2 separate regions of the Homo sapiens genome follow, and region 2 is linked to region 1. Evidence: fine-mapped expression QTL. A gene starts in region 1. The other region holds a variant in brackets. All regions are shown on one strand. Distances are between the middles of the regions. Region 1 holds the start of WDR82 (WD repeat domain 82). Region 2 overlaps WDR82 (WD repeat domain 82).

Region 1 (8,327 bases):
TCTGGTTCCAGGCCTCTTTCAACTTTTATAAGTAACTAAAATTTCTAGGCATCTCTGGAATGTCATGCTGAAACTAATTTTACAACCCTAAGCTCCTGCCTGAAGGTCCATAAATGCACCTAAGGAAAATCCACCAAGGCCCTCAGTCCTCTCGCTGGGGTGCCCCGCTGCACTCTTCTGCAGCGTTCTTTCTTTCTAAGAAATTTTCCTTTTTCAAACCTATACTGTTGTCAGTAAATTTTTTGCCAACCTGTGAGGCGACCACTTCCTGGTGCTGGGGCTCAGACACCTCACCAGGCATTTTGTGTTCTAGTGTTCTGCGTTTCCTCTTTGGCAATTAAGCTCACACACACACACACTCAACTGTCCCAAAGAAGAGAGTCACCTGATTCTAGTTATTCCGAGGGCTGTGTAAGCACTGATACACACACACACTGTCACACTTACACACATGCAACTGTCCCAAAGAAGAGAGTCACCTGATTCTAGTTATTCCAAGGGTTGAGTAAGACGTTAGTCAATCTCTAGGGAAGCCCTGCTGCTGGGCACTGGAGCTCAGAAATTTATCTCAAAGAATTAGAATTCATAAGGAGCTCTGTGTTTTGGAAAGAGGACACATTGTTTAGGACAGTTTCCATTCCAATTGTGCAGCATGAAATAGAAAAATTTAATAAGTGGGCCAATCAAGTATCTGGAATCCTTTGGATAAATTCATTTATTCAATTAATCCATACTGAGCTCTGGCTGGGCTCTGGACAAAATGGGAAGCAAAATTACTTTACAGCCATATAATAGAATAGTTTGTAGCCATTCAAAATGATTGTATCGATATTTATTGACCTGGAATATGTTCATAGTATGGGTAAACTTACAAACAATATATTATGAACCCAATAAAAATATATTTCAGGGATTGGCTGGGTGTGGTGGCTCATGCCTGTAATCCCAGCACTTTGGGATGGTGAGGCAGGCAGATCACCTGAGGTCAGCAGTTCAAGACCAGCCAGGCCAACATGATAAAACCTCGTCTGTACTAAAAATACAAAATTAGCTGGGCGTGGTGGCGGGCATCTATAGGAGGCTGAGGCAGGAGAATCACTTGAACCCAGGACATGGAGGTTACAGTGAGCTGAGAGCACGCCACTGCACTCCAGTCTGGGTGACAGAGCAGGAAAAAAAAAAAAAAAAAAAAAAAAAAAATATATATATATATATATATGTATATGAAAAAATCGGAAAGGTTCTACATCAAAATGGTAAATTTCGTGTTATATATATTTCACTATAATAAAAGATTGTAACAGTGGCTATCTCTGGATGCTGTTTTTATTATTTGTATTTTTTAGTTTTTTTGCAATGAATATGTGACAAGTAAAAGAATGACTACAAATAAAAGGAAACATAAAAAATTAAGTCTGATGCTCTTTTAAAGCCCATCTGATTCACTCTTGACTGCAGCTTTCTCTCCATCCACCCATCCACTGGAGCCGGCTTTCTGTGTCACTTTTTAAAGTCCATTTTTTTTTTTTTTTTGAGACGGAGTCTTGCTCTAATGCCCAGTGCAGTGGTGTGATCTCGGCTCACTACAACCTCTGCCTCCCGGATTCAAGCGATTCTCCTGCCTCAGCCTCCCAAGTAGCTGGGATTACAGGTGCCCGCCACTGTGCCCAGCTAATTTTTGTATTTTTAATAGAGACAGGGTTTCACCATTTTGGCCAGGCTGGTTTTGAACTCCCGACCTTGTGATCTACCCACCTCGGCCTCCCAAAGTGCCACCGCACCTGGCCTAAAGTCCATCCTTTAAGGCAACCATACTGTTGGGCTGGAAGCCAGGAGAGCCCCACTATAATAGGGCAGGGAGCCAGGCTAGGAATTGGAAACAGTAAGAATGCGAAACAGGATGAGGATTTGAAGACCCTCTTAAAAATGGGGGAAAAAAAAAAAGACTGCATTCCAAAAATAATGCAGAAAGTCAAGTCTTGGGAGGAAGGTTTGGTCTTAACGGTGAAATCTGGAAAAGGTATAGGAAGTACAATACTTGAAAAATACCCTGCAAAGATTTATTTTGGCTGGCAACATTCAGTAGATTACAGCTGTTTCTGTGGTTATTTTTGTAGATTAACATGGACCAAAATATGGCATCATCTTACTGGGTGTGTTCACTTCCCGACAGTTCTAGAACATGGTACTCGATCTGTCCTTGTTGCCTTCTAAACTATTCGAAGCAGACGCTGTATCAGACTTTCTAGCTTCTGAAATAAAGGCACAGGAATTACAGGGAAGCAGAGCAAGTGATCTGGGACGTGGAGGGTTTTTCTTCCATTGTGTGCAGTTTGGAAAGTTGCCATCTATTCAGGTTTCACTCAAACCGGCTTTTTCCAGACCCCAGAACAAATTGTAGCCAGAAGCTCTGCTCTTTGTCAGGAGGCAATTATACCCCAGACTTAGCCAGGAACTTGCCTCTTCCCTTAGAGAACAACTTCTCTTTATGTATAAGGATCCTGGCTCTCCTTTTACCCAGGGGGTTGGGATACAGCCTCTAGTTCTTTCTAGAAAGACCCCAACTGTCCCAGGGTTTCCATTTTGTTTTTTACCATTGCACAGGTCTCTGGATAATAACCTTCCTAATAGCGACTGAAATGTCTCACAGCCTTTCCTCGTTTTTGTTTCTCTTTAGCTAAAGAAAGCAAAAATAAATAATCCCCATCTTCATTGTTGGAAACCCCAGGCAATTAACCTTTTGAGGAGCTTCACACAAGATACAGATCTGTGAAGCCACATAGGTTGGCATTGAGTTTAACCCCTTGCCCAGAAAGTTAAGGTTAGGAAGCTTGGTTCCTATTTTCTGTTCAAATACTGCTTTCCTTTGTTAGAGATAAACTTTCTTTTAAGGCAAATAATCACTTATATGATAGAACCTTTAAAATAATCCTGTTGACTACAAACAGGATAGTGCAACTCTTCCAAATCTTGAATGTGGTGGTGACTGCATGACTGTGTATGGGTGTCAGAACATAAAACTAGCCACTAAAAAGGCTAATTTTTGGGGGGAAACCGTCTGCTCTGTCGCCCAGCCTGGAATGCAGTGGCACGATTTCGGCGCACTGCAGCCTCCGCCTTTCTCAATTCTCGTGCCTCAGCCGCGCCATCATGCCCGGCTAATTTTTTGTATTTTAGTAGAGGTGGGGTTTTGTCATGTTGGCCAGGCTGGTCTCAACTCCTGAGCTCAAGCGATCATCCCGCCTCGGCCTCCCAAAGTGGTGGGTTTAAAGGCGTGAGCCACCGCGCCCGGCCTAAAAAGGCTGATTTTTACTGTACCTAAAGTCTACCTCGATTAAGAAAACGAGGCCGGGTGCGGGTGAGGTCAGGAGTTCGAGACCAGCCTGGCCAACATGGTGAACCCCCGTCTCTACCAAAAATACAAAATTAGCTGGGCGTGGTGGCGCGCGCCTGAGCGAGAGACTCCATCTCCAAAAAAAAAAAAAAAAGTAAAGAGGTCGAAGCTGTCTAAGCGGACGCTGCGGTGGACTAGCGGTCAAGCTTGCCTGCGAGCGGCTCACCTGAGTCACCCCCAAAACCGGCCTCCAGCAGCATACCCGACCCTGCAGTACCCCCTCCCACGCAGCCTGCGATCGGGACGCCTGCAGGAGGCGCCAGAGTCTTCGCGGGGGTTGCAATCCCGCGCAAGGGCCCCCGGCTCCCAAGGCATCCGCAACCTTCCGATCCCCCGGGAAGGCCCTGCACGTCTCGGCCGCTCCCTGCCAGCAGCCCGCCCCGCCACTACACTCCGCCGCGGCCGCGCTGACGTCACCACCCCGCCTCCCCGCCTTGCTCCGCCGTTCCCGCCCCGCCCCCTTTCCCGGCGTGCGCCGCGGCTGAGGCTCCTCGCCCTCAGCTTCTGCCTGTCGCCCCAAAATGGCGGACACAATGAGCCGGCGACGCGCCGGTTGTCCGTGAGGTGGCTGTGAGGACGAACGGTCGGCGAGGCTCCACAGTCCAGGCAGAAGACCCTCGACCAAGCAGGAAGAAGAGGAGGAGGCGGCCCAACTGTTGGCCGACTTCCCGCTAGCCGCCGGCGCGGCGCCCGCCCCGCCTGGGTTGGCCCCTCGGCAGCCCGCCCGCTCGCCGCCGGGCCCCGCCCCGGCCCTGCGCCGCCGCTGCCTTCCCCAGCCGCCGCCATGAAGCTGACCGACAGCGTGTTGCGGAGCTTCCGCGTCGCTAAGGTGTTCCGCGAAAACTCGGACAAGATTAACTGCTTCGATTTCAGCCCCAACGGCGAGACGGTCATCTCGAGTAGCGACGACGACTCCATCGTGCTCTATGACTGCCAGGAGGGCAAGTGAGTGCGGCGGAGGCCCTGGGCCCGAGTCTCAGTGCCTCCCTCCGGTGGCCCAGCACAGGTCCCTCGGCCTGCCCTCCGTCCCGACTTCAGCCCCCAGCCTATTTTGCACGCGTTCCTGCCAGGGCCGCCTCCACCCCGCAGCCGTCCAGGAGACCTTTTATTTTTTTCTTCTTAAAAAAAAAAGATAACGATAGTCATAATTTTATAATATTATTTGTATGTCTTCGGTCTCCTTTGAGCGCTATGCATCACTTGCCAAACCCCACCTTGACCTTGACCTTTAAACGCCCGGTCCGCCCACCCTGGGCCCACCAGGTAGCGTTTTCAGCTCCTCAGGCTGTCAAAGGTGCTGGTCTGCTCCGGCCTCGACGCAGGACTGCAGGGGCTGCTTTTCTGCCTCCTTCGGCAGCGTCAGCTCTCTCTTGTGCTCTCTCCACTGTGACCTCGATTCCGCCCTGGCACTCCGCCCATCCCCTGCCCCTCAGCTTCCCGCGGCCTTTCTGCCGTCAGACCGCGTGGGTTGCACTTCTTAGCTGTCAGGATTTATTTGTTGTGCCCCTTTGAGCCCCCTTGCTTTTTCTTCCTGCTCCTAGCCTTTCTCTTACTCATTCAGACTTGGTGCCCACGTTCATAAGTGAACTTTTCAGCAACATCTAAAACTTCCTTTTTGCCACACACAAACGAACTTGGTCGTCCCATCCTGACCTGAATGTGAGCTTCCGTTAAAACAAAGCAAGCATCGTAGAACAATTTCAGGTTTCCTTTCATACTTTTTTTTTTCTATTACACTTTTTGGTCCACTTTGAATTCCAATTCTGATCATGAAACTTTTATGTTGCCACAAGTCATCTGGAGACCCACCATACCTGCATCTTTTCGCAAAATCTAAGCACAGCACTTTGCCTTTTTCCCTGGGGGTCCTTGTCAGCCCTCCTCACCGCACGCCTGTGGACTTGCAGCTCCTTGGAGCCAAAAACTAGTTTAGATTAAATTCGTTTTACCCTTAGCCACCTTCCCCAAGAAGGCTTGCTGATGTTTGGTTTAATTCGGTGGACCCTGGTTTTTTCAGACTTGATTTTGTCACCTAGTAACAGATATTATTATTATTATTATTATTATTATTATTATTATTTGAGATCTTGGGTTTTTCTCCACCTTCTCCAGCTGTTCCTTTTTCCTTTTTTTTTTTTTAGACTGGTGTCCTTCTTTTGGAACATATCTCTTCATTTGTGAATTTGATTATCTGAAGTAATGCTAGTTTGGACTGAGCTATAATGGTATCCCCCCAGTTTTTTTCCCCACTGGGGCTGTGAGAAAGTATTATGTAACCGGCTCTGGATCTGCCTGCAGTTTGTGGCAGAGTGGTCTGCAGTGGTGGTCTTAAGGAAGAGGGAATTGTTAGCTGGACAAATAGTTATTTGAGTCAGTGTTACTCATTGAGTAGATGGATTTCTGTCCTGGTCTGGTCACTTGAATCAGTTTAGAAGACGAAGTAACATTTAAAGGTGTGGTAGTAGGGTCAGCATTGTGGGGTCCTGGAGGAGTAATTTGAAGCTGGCTTGCATGAAATGTATAGTGCTTATGCACAGATTAGAACCTCTTCCCAGAACCTGAGGGTGGAGATGTATATCCTCATTTAAAGGAAATGAAGGTTGTTATAGCATTTCTTTGCAGTTTGTCCCCAAATTTGGCGTAATTTTGATTTGGGAAGGATGACCTTGACATGAAGTCCTGTCTTTCTTTTTTTTGTTTTTTTTTTTCGGGTGGGGGACGGAGTCTCTCTCCGTCGCCCAGGCTGGAGTGTAGTGGCGCGATCTTGGCTCACTGCAACCTCTGCCTCCCGGGTTCAAGCGATTCTCCTGCCTCACCCTCACAAATAGCTGGGATTACAGGCGCCTGCCACCATACCCTAACTTTTGTATTTTTAGTAGAGATGGGGTTTCACCATGTTGACCAGACTGGTCTTGAACTCCTGACCTCAAGTGATCCACCCGCCTTGGCCTTCCAAAGTGCTAGGATTATAGGCATGAGCTGCTGTGCCTGGCCAAATCCTGTCTTGTTAAAAGTAAAATGCTAGTTTTGTGACATAAGGCAGTTTATTTACTCGTAGCATTTTTACATAATTAGAAACTAACAAAGTTACAGTGTTTCAAAGAACTCCCATATGATTCAATAACTGGTTACATTTTCTGCATTTGCTTCATGACTGTAGGTAAATATTTATATGTACTGTGTGCCTCCCCCCACCTTTAGAGTTGGAGGTATCAAGCCCCTTTATCCCTAAACACTTCAACATGGATTTTCTTTCTTTTTTGAGATGGAGTCTCGCTCAGTCGCCCAGGCTGGAGTGCAGTGGCGTGATCTTGGCTCACTGCAACCTCCGGCTCCTGGGTTCAAGCGATTCTCCTGCCTCAGCCTCCTGAGTAGCTGGGATTACAGGTGCATGCCACCATGCCTGGCTAATTTTTGTATCTTTAGTAGAGGCAGGGTTTCACCATGTTGGTCAGGCTGGTCTTGAACTCCTGATCTCGTGATCTACCCGCCTCAGCCTCCCAAAGTGCTGGGATTCCAGGCATGAGCCACTGCGCCCGGCTCAACGTGGATTTTCTAAGCACAAAGACATTCTTATGTAACCAGAGCACAGTTATCCAAATTAGGAAATTTAGTACTGATACAATACTACAGGGCATGCTCTTGAGTTTTCTCTGATCAATTAATTGTAACCTTGTTTCATTATCTGTGGTGAAGGAGTGGCCTGGTAGTTAGGAGGGAACTGGGTACTAGTTTGGCCTGTGACTAGGTATGTGACATTGGTCAGATTACTTCTTTGGGTATTAGACAACCTCTTTAGTTTCCATTCTAGGCAATAATATGATGAAAAATTTTGTCACTAGTATAGGTCAAACCGACCTCAGAAGAAAAGAAGTATTTCCTTGGGAAGGCATGGTATTGTATCTTTTATTTATTTATTTTTTTGATAGGGACTTTCGCTCTTGTTGCCCAGGCTGGAGTGCAGTGGCTCCATCTCGGCTCACTGCAACCTCCGCCTCCCGAGTTCAAGCGATTCTCCTGCCTCAGCCTCCTGAGTAGCTGGGATTACAGGCATGCGCCACCACACCTGGCTAATTTTGTATTTTTAGTAGATGCGGGATTTCTCCATGTTGGTCAGGCTGGTCTCGAATTCCCGACCTCAGGTGATCCGCCGCCTCGGCCTCCCAAAGTGCTGGGATTGCAGGCATGAGCCACTGCGCCCGGCCTTTCTTTTTGTTTGTTTGTTTGTTTTGTTTTGTTTTGTTTTTGAGACTGCCTCACTCTTTCCTAGGCTGGAGTGCAGTGGCGTAATCTTGGCTCACTGCTGCAACCTCGCTGCTGGATTCAAGCGATTCTCGTGCCTCAGCCTCCCGAGTAGCTGGGATTACAGGCACCCATCAGTGTGCCTGCTAATTTTTGTATTTTTAGTAGAAATGGGGTTTCACAATGTTGGCCATGTTGGTCTCAACATCTTACCTCAAGTGATCTGCCCACCTCGGTCTCCTCGGCCTCCCAGAGTGCTGGGATTACATATGTGAGCCTCCGCACCCGGCCCTGTTTTTTTGTTTTGTTTTGTTTTGTTTTTTTGTTTGTTTGTTGTTAAGACAAAGGTCTTCCCCTGTTGCTCAGGCTGGAGTGCAATAGCATGCTTATAGTTCACTAAAGCCTTCATCTTCTGGGCTCAAGTGATCTTCCCACCTCAATCTCCAAAGTAGTTGGGCCTACAAGCACTCGCCAACTTACTTGGCTATTTTTATTTTTAGTGGAGACAAGTTCTCACCAGGTTGCCCAGGCTGGTCTCAAACTCCTGAACTCAAGCGATCCTCTCACCTAGGCCTCCCAAAGTGCTGGGATTACAGGTGTTAGCTACTGTGACCGGCCGAAGGCATAGTATCTTTATTAGATGACCCTAGTGTTAGAATTTGGGAGTTTGAAAATGGCTAAAGCAAGATTT
Region 2 (8,327 bases), 22 kb after region 1:
GTTTTAGTGTATTTCTTATTTCTTTTCTCTTAGGGCCTCATGCATCTGCAGGGGAAGCCAGTTTGTTCTTTTGATCCAGAAGGGTTAATTTTCGCTGCAGGTGTCAACTCTGAAATGGTCAAGCTTTATGACCTTCGTTCTTTTGATAAGGTAAATCTTTGAATCTTTGAGATCTTTGAGCTGTTTTTTGTTTTGTTTTGTTTTTGAGACAGAGTTTTGCTCTTATTGCCCAGGCTGGAGTGCAGTGGTGTAATCTCAGCTCACTGCAACCTCTGCCTCCCAGGTTCAAGTGATTCTCCTGCCTCAGCCTCCCAAGTAGCTGGGATTACACGTGTCCGCCACCACGCCTGGCTAATTTTTTGTATTTAGTAGAGATGGGTTTCACCATGTTGGTCAGGCTGGTCTCAAACTCCTCACCTCTGGTGATCCACCCACCTCGGCCTCCCAAAGTGCTGGGATTACAGGCGTGAGCCACCGCGCCCGGCCCTGTAAGAGCCTTTTCTACAAAAGGAAAAATGTGGTAGATATTAGAGAGTGGCAGAGAAGTAGCTCATTCTCTGCTTTCCTTAGTCAAAAAGTAATCTAAAGGAATAGGATGGGAATTGGCTCTAGCAGAAGAAATTATTAATATGCCTGGGGCTACTGTTTTTTATCTTTTGCAGGGGCCATTTGCTACCTTTAAGATGCAGTATGATCGAACTTGTGAGTGGACAGGACTTAAATTCAGCAATGATGGCAAGCTCATCCTCATTTCCACCAACGGCAGCTTCATTCGTCTGATTGATGCATTCAAAGGAGTGGTGATGCACACATTTGGGGTGAGCTGACAGCCTTCAAGCATGGCTGTTTCCATGCTCATACTTCCTATGCTAAGAATTATGTTAGCTGGTTGGTGGAGACCAACAGTTACTCTTGACTTACTCATGAAGGCATGCACTTGTATTTTCTTCCTGCTCATGAACTTACCTCTCTTGGATTTCGTAGATGTTCATTTCTCACCAAGTGACCCAAGTTTGGTATTTAGATATAAAATAATTTCCTAACAATAAAGTTTTCTTGCCCCCTTGAGTATGCCTTGAATACAGAGTTGAGGGTGGGAGTGGATTGTCAACGATGGCAACCACATTTGGAAGCTTGGTGGTGTAGTACATGACAAGGAAAGGGTTTCATGGAAAGGAAGGTGATGCATGTGCTGAGTCAGTGTTTGTAGGCAGCTGTTTTTATTAATGGCTCTGTAAGAACAAAAGAACTGCTCTGTTTTGTTTTAGGGTTATGCCAACAGCAAAGCTGTCACACTGGAGGCTTCATTTACTCCAGACTCTCAGTTTATTATGATTGGTGAGTTTCCTTTTATCCCCTGTGGGGGTTATTTCTCTGGTACTATGCATTTCTTTGTTTAAATTATTAACTGAGACATTATTATCTATTTGATAGATGTTCTTAGATTTCTGTATAGCACATTATGCCAAGGACATAGTGTCTTTTAACTGCCCTGACTGGACCAAAATTTGAGTTAAACTCCACAAGCACTACCTTATTAGTAATGCTAATGTCCTGGTGTAACCCTACATTCAGTCATCTTAGTGGCTGCCTGTTGGTAGGGTAATGGTATTCGGCCCCTTTTTTAGATGAGAAAACTGAAGTTAGAACGGAAGTGACATGCCTGTGAACAAATAGCTAGGGTCAAGATAAATTTCCAAAGTGTCCTTCCTTCACTGCCTCTCCTCCCTCTCAATTTTGCCTGAGGGATGGGTCCTAAAGCTTGGCGTATCCTCAGATCTCAATCCATGTCTCATTTCCAGTTGTCTTTGTATTGCGCCTTGAGCTGTTACATTTTCCGTGAATATCCTCTTTAGGTTCAGAGGATGGCAAGATCCATGTCTGGAATGGAGAGAGCGGTATAAAAGTAGCTGTGTTGGATGGTAAACACACAGGCCCGATTACCTGTTTGCAATTCAACCCCAAGTTCATGACTTTTGCCAGTGCGTGTTCCAACATGGTATGTGAACAGTAAGAGGTATCTGCTACTCAGGGACCCTTCCCAGTTGGGGTGGTGGGTGCCTCAACAAGCACAGCAAGCTGTGTTCTACATAGGTACATTACAAGCATCCAAGTACATGTTTCTCAACTGGTGGTTTCCCTATTTCATCTCCTATTATTTGATCTCTGGCTGGGCTGGTCTTGCCTTTCATTTTTATTCTTCCTAGAGGTGATCAGGAATCATCTTTGAGTTCCAAGGAGATCATAGGCCAGTTTTTGCTCTGGACCCTAATTTTAGGTCCAAACTACCTGGGCTATGCTTGGCAATTTTTTTGCTCCTTAAAATACTCTGAACCGGCCTTTTGTGGTTTCAGTTTTCCATTCCTGTTGGTTTACGCCAAATTCCCAGAAATTTCTACAGTTGGTCATAACTCACCACTTAGAATTAACTCCAGGCCCTTATCTCTTCCTAGATAATACTAACAGAACAAAGGATCAGTGAGTCTCAGCTCCAGTTTTCCCTTGTGATCTCCTAAACCTGCCTGGGTATTCGGGGATGAGACATTTCATTACTAGCCTACCCGGAGCACATTGCCACCTTGCTTTTTTTTTTTAACCAAGAAAAAAATGTTAGAAAAAATACAGCAAAACCATCCAGTTCCTTACTTTTTACAGCCCAGGAAGGTGGGGGCCTGTTGGAGGTAACCTGGTGGATTAGCAATGAGGACAGGTTACTTATTCACCCACCTCCCAGGCAGCACTCCTTTTTTTCCCTTCCTTTAAAAAAAAGGGGGCGGGGGGTCTGCTTTGGTGGAAGGTGGACAGTGATTATTGGAGAAAAACAGAACCATTTTACTTTCACATAGAGGAAAGAGTGTTTCTGTCTCCTTAGAGCATCGGGGTTGGTTGGTTAGGAGAGAGGGCTACCAGAGCCACTGGGGTTGGGCACATTTTTGCTGTGGGGTGGGATGTGAAGAACCGTTGGCAGTGAGGAGATGCTTGGCTTTTTAAAGTTGATTTATGTTCTCCTTCTAGGCCTTTTGGTTGCCCACCATTGATGACTGACCCTGTTGCTGCTTGGCTATTTCTGTATAGTGAGGGCGGCCAGCAGGAAGAAACTCAGAGGGAACTGAGATAATAGTGGGATTGGATCATTTGACTGGGCTGGAGAACATCCTTTTACATGGCCTTCCCATGGATGTGCTGTACATCTGCTCAAAAGAAAATAATTACTTTGATGAGCGTCTTCAAAAGGACTCTTGGTGCAACAGACTCAATTGGAACTCAGCTTTTCTAACTGTCACTGCACCAAGCTCTGCTGGAGGAGTGACCAGACTCACGATTTGGTATAGTGGGGCTCTCAAGCATCTTCAATTTGAATGTACATGCTGCTGAGGAGCCGGTGAAGTCATCAGTTCCGCACATCCCTTCTACCCTCCAACTGCATGGGAAGCCAAAGTCCTGGTTTTGAAATGCTTGGGCAGCTCAGCCGCTTGCCCTCACCCTGCATGTCTTGTTACTGGGTCTCCCTGTGTACTTGTGGCATTATCCACAACCATCATGTTTCTTAGGTGCCAAACATTTACAGAAACATTTTCATATATCTTGGGGTCAGAGAAAGGGACAGATACAGAAGGACCTTGCTTGCAGGAAGCCATGCAGTTAGTTTCTGCAGTTAGTCGTGTGAGGCTAGGTGGTTGGGCAGGCCTCGGGCTGTAGGTGTTGGGTGGGAAAAAGACCCAAGGGCCTGAAAGGGAGGGAAAGGGGAGGGTAGCGGGAGGGTAGCAGGTGAGTTCCTAGGGCTGGAAGGTTTAGCAGCAGCCTGGTGCAGTGCCCTGTCATCAAGACAAACCCACGGTCCTCCTGGGTGCCTACCAAGCTTGGTTTGTACAAAAGCAAGGTGGGAGTCTATTTTTGTACATGAGATACATCACACTTACCTGTGGGCCAGTATTGTGAAGTGAGTCTGAGTTGTTTACACTGATGCCTTCCCTGCCCACCACAAATTGTGTACATAGTCTTCAGATGATACCACCCCTTTCCCCAGCTCCCAACCAAGAGCTGGTTCTAGGCCTGTGTTATATGTCATATTTAGCGTTTTTATATATGACCTTTGATTTCTGTTGTTTGTATTTTAGCACAGTGTATGCACCTTCATTTAAATACATCTGTGTGCATACAGATACGCATATATGTGTGTGCGTATGCATATATCTCTCATCTGTAGTTTCCAAGAGTTCAGCTGAAGCAGATGGAGTCCTGCAGCCCAGGAGACACCCTGCATCCCTGCTAATAGTGTTTGCCACAAGTATTAGTGAGTCTTCCTTATTAATATTTTCATTTCAGAAGACTGAAGCAAAGCTGATAGTGTTTGCTGTTTCTTTGGCAGCTAAGTGAGGGTCTTGGGATGACTTGCTGTGTTCCTCAAGCTGCACTTTGGGGCCATCTCTGCAGTATTAGCCCCCTTTTTGCTTGGTGGTACTCTGTCTGTGCCTGTGTGTGTGTGTGATAGTCACTCTTGCATGGCTTCCATGTCTGGTTTGTGGCATTTGGGGATAAGGTGCTGAAGCCAGAGCATTTGCAGTTTGTTTGAGGCCTCGTTGCCAATGATAGATCACTCCTGTTGACCTGGTATGTCTGCTTGCTTGCTGCTTTTCCTTGCTTTCTCTTGGAAGAGGAAAGGACTCTGGTCAGGCCCAGGCTGAGTGAGATGAGCTGCAGCTGGCTCATGGCCTTCTTAGAGCAGAGAGAGGAGTATGTCATTTTACTAAGTTCCTAAACAAACATTTATGCAGGCAACACTCCTTGCAGATCCAGAAACTGAGGCACAATAGGGTTATGACTTGCTCAAGAATATGTAG[C/G]TGCTAGGGGGTAAATCAAGGCATCACAATTTCTGTTCAGCGGGCAGGAATAGGCTGTGAATTGCTAGCACTTTTTTTTTTTAAGCAATTACTTTTTGACTTGTTCCTCTGAAAGTGCAAGAGGCGTACACCTTTCCCAAATGTAGACTAGAATCTGCAGGATGCCACCCACTGTATAGTTCTGCTTTCCCAGAGAGGAAGAACTTTTAGAAACCAAATGATCTTAATTGTTATTGCCCACCCCTGGCTTTTCCGGGTAGAAAATTCACAGTAGGAATGATTGTTAAGAGAGAGTGCTTGGAACCATGGGTTAACAGGAAAGGCTACCTAACTTCACATATCTGCAACCAGAGCAGCCACCAAGCATTACTTAGCAGCAGGAAAATGATTGTATTTGAGTTCCTGTGTGTCCAAAACTGAGCACCATGTTCTTTGAAAACATGCCACCTCAAGGCTGGGCGCGGTGGCTCACACCTGTAATCCCAGCACTTTGGGAGGCCGAGGCGGGCGGATCACCGGAGGTCGGGAGTTTGAGACCAGCCTGACCAACATGGAGAAACCCCATCTCTACTAAAAATACAAAATTAGCCGGGCGTGGTGGCATGCGCCTATAATCTCAGCTACTTGGGAGGCTGAGGCAGGAGAATTGCTTGAACCCAGGAGGCGGAGGTTGCGGTGAGTTGAGATCGTGCCATTGCACTCCGGCCTGGGCAACAACAGCAAAACTCCGTCTCAAAAAAAAAAAAAAAAAAATGCCACCTCACAGTCTCTATCGTTGGGCCCTGTGGTTGCAAAGCTGCCTCCTGAATTAAGAAGGAAAGGGAAAAGATATAGCTGGAAGCGAGTGGAAGAGATGCTGAGGGCTGGGGCTGCACAGACGTGCTCAGCAGGGCTACAGGTGCTCAAGCCCTATTGGGGATGGGTGGGGAGTGGGGCAGCGGCGTTTGCCACCTTAAGAATTGGGGCCAAAGCCACTGATGTTTATTTGACAGTGACACTGCACTGGGTACTTAAAGAAATTATTTCCCGTTGTAATTATAATTACTGCTTATTAAGGAAAATATGGGAATTTTAGAAAGAATCAAGTTTGCCACCCAAATGCTACCACTGTTAATCTTTTGGTGTTAAATGTTCCCCCTAGACATTTCTGTGCATAGATTTTTGGTGTGTTTACATAGTCGTTATTCTGTATATACAATTTTATGTCCCTTTTGTACTTAACGTATAAACATTTTTTCCATGTTACAGTCTTAAACAGAATTTTATGGCTGCAGCCTCTTCGATTTGAGTTTCTGTAGCATGGTTTGCCTGGTTCCCAGAGCTGGAGGGAGGCTTGGGTTGTCTCCTGTTAGTTCTGGCTCACACTGCAGCTTGCTGTAATGCTGTGTAGACGGATTGCTGGGCTCCCTGGGACTGCCTCTGACTGCCCCTTGGTAACTAAGATTTATGGGCTGGTGGGAGGAACCCCTAGAACCAGCCTTCAACCCCAGGCTGTAATAGCCATAGAGCCAGCAATGACTGACGGGGCAAGGCAAGCCTGAGCCAGCCTGAATCTTCGGAGACTGTCTGGCACTTACCTCAGGCTGCCTTGCATCCTCTACTGTTTACTCAACCCTTCACCAGATTGACAACCTCTAGTTGGAATATGTTTTGTCCTGCTAGACCCTGGTTTCAGGAAGGCAAGAATACTGGAGTCTCTCTGAGGCCCCAGCACCCAGTCTGGCAGAAGGCAATTGCTTTGGTAACCCATTTGCCTGGAGGCTGCTGCTCTAGCTCAGCATTCTCAGAGCTGTAGAACCTGCTTCCTGCTCTTGCCTCGCCCTCTCTGGACCAGAGAAGAAAACCTTGGGCCTGCCACATTTTCACATTGCTCATGGGACTCTGCAACAGTGGCGGAGGGAACATCCTAGCTTGTGTGTGACAGGCCATGCACAGGCTCTTCTGACACTACGTACGTAGGAAGAGACCCCCTCCTGGCCTGGTGGGAGGACTGCTGCCGTGTTCAGCTCTGCTGGGAGACATGAACAAGTAGGTAAGCATGGCTGCCCTTAGAGCAGCCACTCTGGTCTCTGTCCTGCTCGCAACTGAAAGACCTACTTCACCCACCCCCCAGGCTTCATTCAGCCTTGTGACGTGAGGAACAACAGCAGGCATGGTAGCAAGCTAGGCAAGCAGGCTGTGGGGGCGAGCTGGCTCAGCAGTTGATGTGGGTAAGAGAAGCAGGCACAGGATGCTGCCCACCCTTTTTTTTTTTTTTGCTCAGGCGGAGTGGTGAGGTAGTGGAGGCTGTGGTGAGGAAAGAGGAAGTGACACTCCTACAGGCTGGTAGGACAGCACTCAAGCTGCCTGGCTAGAGGAGTCCTAGCAAGACTACCATAGGGCCTAGCTGTGGACAGGTTCAACCCTGAAGTCCTGCACTGTGGAATATAGCAGTGGGAAATATCTGATGCAGTTTTTCCAGTCTTCCCTGGAGAATGTGTAGGAAATGAAATCTAGAGTTAATGGGTAGGAAAGGGGGTCTGAGGCTGGGTGCAGTGGCTCACGCCTGTAATCCCAGCACTTTGGGAGACCGAGGTGGGTGGATCACCTGAGGTCAGGAGTTTGAGACCAGGCTGGCCAACATGATGAAACCCCATCTCTACTAAAAATATTGGGTGTGGTGGTGTGTGCCTGTAATTCCAACTGTTCAGGAGGCTGAGGCAGGAGAATCACTTGAACCCAGGAGGCTAGAGGTTGCAGTGAGCTGAGATGGCACCATTACACTCCAGCCTGGGCGACAAGAGTGAAGCTCCATCTCAAAAAAAAAAAAAAAAAAGCCGGGGTGGGGTGGGTTCTGAGAGCCTCTCAGTTGAGTTAATTATACAGGTTTTACCATTGGCTCTGCGACCTGTTGGATATTCTTCTTGGCTGCAATTTTGGGCTGTCAGTTGCCTGGTGAGAGAATTCACCTAAATTATAAAGTAGGAGTAAATCAGAGAAGGGTCAAGTAAAGCTGAGGTCATGAAGGTGGTTTGCCTTGTAATTCAATAGATACTTCCTGAGCACTTGAGCTTTGGTACGTTCTAGTTGACAGCATGGCTGTTTTTGTTTTGTTTTGTTTTTGAGACAGTTTTGCTCTTATTGCCCAGGCTGGAGTACAACGGTGCGATCTTGGCTCACTGCAACCTCCGCCTCCCGGGTTCAAGCGATTCTCCTGCCTCAGCCTCCCGAGTAGCTGGGATTACAGGCATGTGCCACCACACCTGGCTAATTTTGTATTTTTAGTAGAGACAGGGTTTCAACATGTTGGTCAGGCTGGTCTCAAACTCCGGACCTCAGGTGATCTGCCTGCTCAGCCTCCCAAAGTGCTGGATGACACACCTGAGCCACCAGGCCTGGCCCCATTTTTTTGTTTGTTTTGTTTTGTTTTGAGACAGAGTCTCACTGTGTTGTCCAGGCTGGAGTGGAGTGGCACAATCTCCCCTCACTGCAACCTCCACCTCCTGG

The links. PIP is the estimated chance that this variant, and not a neighbour inherited with it, causes the effect. A credible set is the group of variants that fine-mapping cannot tell apart.
Region 2: its variant is the best candidate, but not a certain one, in a credible set for the expression of WDR82 in fibroblasts (GTEx, PIP 0.82).

Annotation. Positions count from the first base shown.
Region 1 is chr3:52,274,213-52,282,539 of GRCh38, reverse strand. WDR82 (WD repeat domain 82) reads left to right here and starts at 3,891. Exons shown (of 9, transcript NM_025222.4): 1 at 3,891-4,339. The coding sequence starts at 4,179. It overlaps LOC107986086 (a long non-coding RNA gene), which reads left to right. Exons shown (of 3, transcript XR_001740699.2): 3 at 1-222. RefSeq lists enhancers at 3,268-3,899, 4,369-4,468, 4,879-4,958, 4,979-5,028, 4,532-5,164 and silencers at 3,629-3,918, 4,099-4,178.
Region 2 is chr3:52,252,208-52,260,534 of GRCh38, reverse strand. It overlaps WDR82 (WD repeat domain 82), which reads left to right. Exons shown (of 9, transcript NM_025222.4): 5 at 34-150; 6 at 663-818; 7 at 1,269-1,338; 8 at 1,857-1,999; 9 at 3,016-6,101. The coding sequence ends at 3,045. Among named protein-coding and RNA genes, the nearest start is that of PPM1M, 11 kb to the right of the region's middle. RefSeq lists an enhancer at 6,785-7,104. The variant C/G (reference allele first, on the strand shown) is at 4,842.